Linked DNA regions of Homo sapiens. The protein of the gene in region 1 purifies or fractionates together with the protein of each later gene. This does not show direct contact. Each region holds a gene or a part of one and is shown on either strand. Other genes may lie near its edges.

Region 1 (3,820 bases):
TGAGGATAATATGTAATAACCTAATTTTACTTTCTATTAAAGCATAATGAAATCCAAAAGGAAAACTGATCACATGGAGAGAACTGCAAGTGTCCTTCGACGGGAGGTTTGTATCTTTGGGGTATGACAGGTTTTTCCAGCTAGACCGTTTACATGTGGTTATGACTGGCTTATGGGTAAAGCATTAGATGAGTCTGGTCCTTTTGAAGGAGAGTTGGGAAGTTTGTTATTTTTCTATTTAGAAATTTTCTGAGCAGGACATTTGATATCTGATTTGAAAAGATGACAGATACTCAAATTTTTCCCTTTAAACTTGGAATGAATGGATTACCTTTTGATGAAGCAAGTAGAGCAGCAACTGAGGGAGCCATCCTCACAGGTATGATGTTTAGGGTTATGTTTTAGCACTAGAACTTCCTTTAAAGCCTACATTTTATGAATAGCTTACCTTTCTCTGTTTTTTTGTGTGGGGTCTTTTTTTTTTTTTTGCGTCACATCTCAAAGTTCTTGTTCTCATTCCTGCTTTAGAGCAACTTATTTCATCAAGGGAGAAAGCACTAACATCTGAGAAAGGAAAGTGGACGAGCTCTTGTTACCCTTCTAATGTACAGATTTTTTCCACCATATTCAGACTATAGAAAGCTAATCTACCACCTGAAGGGGTGTCAAGGGCTGAGAAATAAAGGATCCTCACCCTTTACCTCAGTGAGTAACCCCATTTTTGTTTAAAAACATAAATCGGATATTTGATTTTGCTTTTTTGAATGTTTATCACTTACTCAGATATATTTAGCTTAGTGTTATAAGTATATGTAAGCTAACAATAAAAAAACTATTTCATGTAAAGAAGGATTATATACTTCTACAAACATGGGCAGAAATTATATTGTCTCATTTAAATTTATCTATTAATAGAAGGATACACTTTAATGTAAAGGCATATTGTTTAGGCCCTACTTTTAAGGCTAACTTCTTTCAGAAAGTTACTTTGGGACTAAGGGTAATGTGTTTGTTGATTCAGCTTAAAGTTCTTTTTTTTTTTTTTTTTTTTGAGAAGTCTGTAAAATTAGTTTAGCATAGTAGATTTAGGAGCTTGTGGGGAAGTACACTTTTTCCAATAATAAATCTGAAAATACTTTTTTTTTGGTTTGTTCAAGTGACCAAAAATGCTGATTCTGTAAATGTGAGACTTGTTAGGATTTCTTTTTATAAAATGAAGGCCTTGCAAATTATGAAAAAAAAAAGTGATTTATCTTACAGGCTCTTTCCTGTTGTATTTTGAGGCTGGTAGAATTAGAGCAGAGGTTGAAAATCTTTCCCTAGAAGGCCAGATAGTAAATACTTTAGATTTTTTGGGCCGTGCTGTCTTAATTACAACTTCTAATCTTTGATTTTATAATGTGAAAAGAGCCATAGACAGTATGTATACAAATTTCATTTACCAAACACCCAGATTTGGCCTGCAGGTAATAATTTGCTAGTCCCTGAATTAGAGTATTCATTTCAGAATTTTATTTTACAAGACCAATTAATTTTAATAGCCTGCAGAAACTAAGTGAAATATAAGCAAAAAAGAATCATCAAGCATTTACAAACAATTAGTATATTATTTACTGTTTAGCGTCAACTGATATTTACTGAGCACCTCCTGTTTTCCAGGACCAAAAACTTGTTTCTTACCTTACAGAATTCTCAAAACTATGCCGTAAGATACATAATAATATTTTAAGACAGGTAAGATAGATAGATAGTTAATAGTATTTTCTTGTTTTTTTTTTTTTTTTTTGAGACAGAGTCTTGCTCTGTCACCCAGGCTGGAGTGCAGTGGGTACAGGGGTACAGTCATGGCTCACAGCAGCTTCTGTCTCCCAAGCTCGACTGATCCTCCTGCCTAAGCCTCCTGATTAGCGAGGACTACAGGCACACTATTGTGCTCAGCTAATTTTTAATTTTTTGTAAAGATGGTCTTGCTGTGTTGCCCAGGCTGGTCTTGAACTCCTGGCCTCAAGTGATCCCTTCTCTTTGGCCTCCCAAAGTGCTGGGATTACAGGCATGAGCCACCACACCTGGCCAGTATTTTCTTTTTAACAGATGAAAAGACTAAGAATCGGACTAATAGGAACTTGCACAGCATCCATCATAGGCATTAACATACTTAATTATGTTGACTGCCAATTCTAAGGAAACATATCTATTTCTCACATTTTTATTGTTACCACAAAGTCTTTTACATTTTTCAAATTTGTGTGGATATAAACAGTATTTTTATTTATATCACCATCATTTCTGTTTCCTAATAAAAGACCTTTATCTCCCTAAGGTTATCACCACTTATCTATAATTTCTTGCTTATTAATTTTAATAAAATATACATAAGTGGGAATGTACAGTATTCAGTATTCTGTGGTTTACAAATGAGGCAGGCACATACTTTAAAGGTTACACCTATTAAGAAATAGATGCTAATGGCACGTCTCTCTCTGAGTACGCTCACACTCCCTTTTGTTGGGTGTGTGCTTTCCCCCTTCCAATAAATCACTGTACTATCACTAAAAAAAAAAAAAAAAACAAAAGATATCAACTATGATTTCTAAAATATACTTAAATATATTTAAAATTAACCTCATTAAAATTTTTGGTTTATAAATATAACTATAACTACAGTATGTTAAGCTTAAATGACTATGTATTATGATGGTTAGTGACATATAAAGTACTGATATACATATTCTTTCAAGTTTGAAGTACCTCACCTGAGAACTCGGCTAAGGGGCAGTTCCTTAGTTTGGTTCCACTGGAATAAAATTATAAAAGGTGTATTTTCCTTTATGTAACAGATACATAACTATAGCCAAAAGGTCAGGCAACACAGAATTCAGTAAATACTGAGGATAATGCAATAGTTAATGTCAAATTCTAGCCAACTTCTAGTATTATGAAAGTATGTCTAATCTTAGGGAAAACCTGTTCTAACAAAATTATCTTAAGAAAAAGGGAAAGAACTATAAAGAAACAGACTATTAGAGATCTAGTAAATATTTTATAGATTAGGGACTGAGCTTCAGTCTTGATAAGTAACTTGCCCAAGCCATATATGCCAGTGGTGAAACCAGGACTGATTGCTGAACCTGACGTCTGTTTCAGGTTCTTTTGAACATGCCCTTGTTCTTTCATGTTATGACCGAATCGTACCATTTATTCACCGAATTTTAACTTTAATTTGGAAAATTATCAACTAATAAAACTTTTTCTCTTCAGCACAACTCTCTAGTTTTTCTAAAAATGAGCATTTTAAGAACAGGATACAGTTGATAACATTAGAGCACTCTCATAGTTCCTTAAGATCAGAACTTTATACAGGAAAAAGTTCCCTTTACATAAAGTTTGATTTGGCTGGAGAAAGCTTATAAAACAGTCATAGCTTTAAAGCCTTTTTACTCTGTATCATAGTGACATCCCCTGTTGTAAAACAGTTTTTTATCATCTGACATTTTCTTCAGATAGCCAGTTTTCCTGCTTTGGCTGTCTTATAAGAACTTCCAAAGACTTCAGTCTACCTATAGTTTGTTGTTTGTAGGTCAGGAAGAGTTATCTTAGAATGTAGCTTACAGACTTTCTGCCAAAAATGTTCTTTAGTTGTGTCTTGTCTGCAGTAAGAATGTTCAATTTGTGGTCAAGCGCAGTGGCTCGTGTCTGTAATCCCAGCACTTTGGGAGGCTGAAACAGGAGGATCACTTGAGACCAGGAGTTTAAGACCAGCTTGGGCAACATAGCAAGACCCAGTCTCTGCAAAAAGTTAAAATTAGCTGGACATGGCGGT
Region 2 (3,820 bases), on another chromosome or scaffold:
GCGGGCCTGACTAGGTGAGATTTTCGGGACAGATAATGGGAGGTACAGATAGTCAGCCAGCCGGGTAGAGAAGGCAAACAAACCCCTTGGTGTGTGTGGGAGGGGGTCCAGAAGAGGGCAGACACAAGACCAAGTGGGCAAAGGGAGAAAAGGCCAGTTCTCGCATCAGCTATTCTAATGAGCTCTAAAACACGAGCCATCGTCTCTCAGTTGAGGAGGAGCGGGAGGTTGGAGAAACCTCAGTTGTGGATTCTTCCTTGGTCAGATATTGACCAAGCATCTGCAGTGCGAGGCGCTGCTCAACAGAGAACCTCAGCCCCGCCTTCCTGAGCTGCAGAGTGCAGGGAGCAGAACCTCAGCCCCACCTTCCTGAGCTGCAGAGTGCAGGGAGCAGGCAGCACTCACTGGGCAGCTACGAGGGTGGGAGCAGGCTTGGGGCAAGTGCCCAGGGTGGGGCCTGCCACTGGCCTGGTCACGGGGCATCCCTCGGCAAGCAGGTACTTCTGCACACCTCCTGTGAGGCAGGCATGGGGCATCCGCTATGATGGAGACAGACTGTGTCCCAGCCTGCACAGCCCTCCCTTTGGTCCAGAGGGGAAGACACACCAGACGGGAATCACATACTGGTGTGTTTAGTTCTAACTGTAAGATGTGCCAGGAAGATGGGCTGGATATTCTCCATTGGCCCTTTCAAATCCCTTCTCTTCACCTTCTCTTTATGCATGGGAGGCTGACCTTATCACCTGGTGGCTGTGCCACCTCGATTCGTTGGTCTTCTGGCATTCAGGTGGGTCCAGCCAGTGGGAGGCACCAGTAGGTGATAGGAGAGTGAGTGCAGAGAGCTCATGAGTGTGTGTGACCCTGTTCCCCAGTGGTGCATGGCTCTGGTGGCAGCTGGGCTCCCTACCTAACTCCCTCCCTGCTGAGTGACTCCAGAATTCAGCTCCCTCCAGGGTGAGTTGTACCTTCCCCGACCCTTGCCCTTCAGGCTCCTGCATTTCCCTGAAACTCTGCCCATACCTCTGTGAATTGTCCCTTCCCAAAGCCCTCCTCCAGGAATCCCTGCAGCGCGCCACTGTCTCCTGCTGGGGCACTGACTGGTGCAGGAGGGAAGTGCAGGGTTCTGAGGGAGGCAGAGCCAGGGTCCTGACCTGTGTCGGGGGGCAGTTTGCTTTCTCTGCCTTATGAGGGAAGTCCTCCCCAGCCTTCAAAGTCTCCCCTCCAGCATCACCTCCTCCAGGAAGCCCTCCCTGCCTCTCTAGCCAAGGTCAGATTAGGCTTCTATTGCTCTTTCCTTCAGAGCACTGATCTCAGTTTGCACCTTCACATTCAGGAGTATGTCTAATCTGATTACCTATCACACTCCTGAATATCACGCTCCTGAACATGAAGGTGTAAGCTTTGCCTGAAGTCCCAGAGACACTCAGCAGCGGTGCAGAATTTGCACCTGGGTCTGTCTGGTTCCCACTCACCTATCACCACAGGGCTGCGGGTCAGAGCTCAGGATCCAGCACTTGAGACTGTCACTGCTCACCCTGTCACCAACTTGCTGGAGAGAGCCTGGGTCAGCTTCTGTTCACCACTGACTCTCCTGGGCCTGGCCAGAGTAGCTGTTCAAAAGGAATTCTTGACTGGAAATAATGAGCATCCGAAAAGGCATTTCAAGAAACAAATACCACCGCCCCCAAATGGAAGGCTATAATGTTCTTATTGTTAGCAAGAAAAATAACATGGCTATTATAGCTAAATTAACTAAATGGCCTGCCACCTGAGAATCTATTGTTTATGGCAAGACAGGGCCTAGGGACATTACATTACAGGCAAATTCTTTTTCCTTTTTCTTCATAGGTTTGCTCTGGAATTAGTCACAGAAAAGGGCCATACATTTGCCGAAGAGCTTCAGAAAGTGAGTAACACCATCTCACCCAAGCTGGGAATCTTCAGCCCCGGTGGCCATCACGGGACTCAGCATCCAGCCACCAGTTACTCTTTGTGTCACCTGGGGCTAGTTACTCTCCCTCTGTGAGCTCCATTTCTTCATCTGTAAAATGCGGACAGGCCAGGTATGGTGGCTCACACCTGCAATCTCAGCTACTTGGGAGACTGAGGCAGGAAGATCACTTGAGGCCAGGAGCCTAGGTAACATAATAAGACCCTGACTCTACAAAATATTTGAAAATTAGCCAGGCATAGTGGTGAATGCCTGTAGCCTTAGCTACTCAGGAAACTGAGGTAGGAGGATCTCTTGAGCCCAGGAGGTCAAGGCTGCAGTGAGCTGTGATCATGCCACTGCACTCCTGCCTGGGCAAGAGATTGAGACCCTGTCTCAGGCCGAGCACCATGGTTCAATTAAGCCTGTAATCCCAGCACTTTGGGCGGCCAAGGTGGGAGCATCACTTCAAGCCAGGAGTTCAAGACCAGCCTGGGCAACTTAGGGAGACCCTGTCTCTACAAAAAAAAAAAAAAATTAAAAATTAGCCAAGTATGGTGGCATGCACCCATAGTCCCAGCAACTTACAAGGCTGAGGTGGGAGAATCGCTTGAGTCTTACAGGTTGAGGCTGCAGTGAGATGTGATTACACCACTGCACTGTAGCCTGGGCAACAGAGTGGGATCCTGTCTTTAAAAAAAAAAAAAAAAAAAAACCTCTGTCTCCAAAACAAACAACTGGAGACATATAATCTTCCTTCACAGGCGAGTGGGGAGGATTGTACTAAATGAGGGAATTTAAAATGCAACGGTTCTCAACCCAGGGCCATTCTGCCCCTCAGGGCCCGCTGAGCAATATCTGGAGACATTTTTGGTTGCCACATCTGGGTGTTGGGGGTGTTGCTGGCATGTAAATATCCTGCAATGCAGGGGACAGCCCCCGTCAACGAAGAATGACCCGGCCTTGAATGGCAATAGCACCGAGGCTGAGAAAGCCGGTGTGAAGTGCCTCGCTCATGCCCGATGCAGAGGGAACCTGGGAAGCCTAGCTGCAGTGAGCCCTCAGCCCGTGGGACTCATGCGTCACAGTGTCACTGTTCTGTTCCCTAAGAAGGAGGGGGCCTCTGACCCACGCAGAGAACTTCAAGCACGGAGACAGGGTCACCACCCCAGAATGCCCAGGGTGCCGCACTTTCCACCTCCACATGGACCCAGGTCCCCAGAAACCGCTCCCCGCAGGGTCAGCCCTTCCCACTTCCGTTCTGAAGCCCAGGCTGGAGCCTGCTCAGGCCCCTGGGAACAGACGGAGGGTAGTAGGTGGGGCTGCCACAGGCTGTGGCTGCAGGAGGAAGCCTCAGCTGCCAGAACATTCTGTGTGGTGGAGGAAGGCTTTCAACCTCCTGAGGAGCCGCGGTAGCAGCGGTCATTTCTGTCTGCTGTACGCGTTGGGTCGCAGCTGTCACGTCACCTCCTCAAGGGCCTTCCCTGGCCACCTAATCTCCAGCTGGGTTAGGCACTGCTCCTGGATTTCCACATCCTCTAACCACAGGCATCACAAGGGGTGTTAACCTGTTCACCCATCCACCTCCCACCCAGCCTTGGCACTGTGAGGGCGGGGACAGTGTCTGGTTCACCTGGGAGCCCCGCCTGGCCTGGTAGCCGCTCGCAGGGCCTGTGGATGAGGCCGGGCAGCAATGCCACTGCTTTCCTCATATCACCCATTTCACCCTCACAGACACCCGTGAGGTGGAAGTTAATGTCCACAGCTTATAGGGAGCCAAACTGAGCCTCAGAAAGGCTGACTTGCCCAGCCCCCACAGCCAGGCATCAGTAGAGCTGGAATCTGATTCCCAAACTGGTGCCATTTCTCCCCAGCCCTTGGGGTACACGC

What was found.
Region 2: the proteins of OXNAD1 (region 1) and MMAB purify together in Homo sapiens (affinity purification with mass spectrometry; one large-scale study listed by BioGRID and IntAct). This does not show direct contact.

What each region holds. Positions count from the first base shown.
Region 1 is NC_000003.12:16,271,617-16,275,436, forward strand, and holds part of OXNAD1 (oxidoreductase NAD-binding domain-containing protein 1 isoform 2 precursor), read left to right. Parts: intron 1-42; coding exon 43-106; intron 107-528; exon of another isoform or gene 529-603; coding exon of another isoform or gene 604-705; intron 706-3,242; exon of another isoform or gene 3,243-3,671; intron 3,672-3,820.
Region 2 is NC_000012.12:109,563,205-109,567,024, reverse strand, and holds part of MMAB (corrinoid adenosyltransferase MMAB precursor), read left to right. Parts: coding exon of another isoform or gene 1-14; intron 15-1,848; coding exon 1,849-1,906; intron 1,907-3,820. UniProt on the Homo sapiens protein: Converts cob(I)alamin to adenosylcobalamin (adenosylcob(III)alamin), a coenzyme for methylmalonyl-CoA mutase, therefore participates in the final step of the vitamin B12 conversion.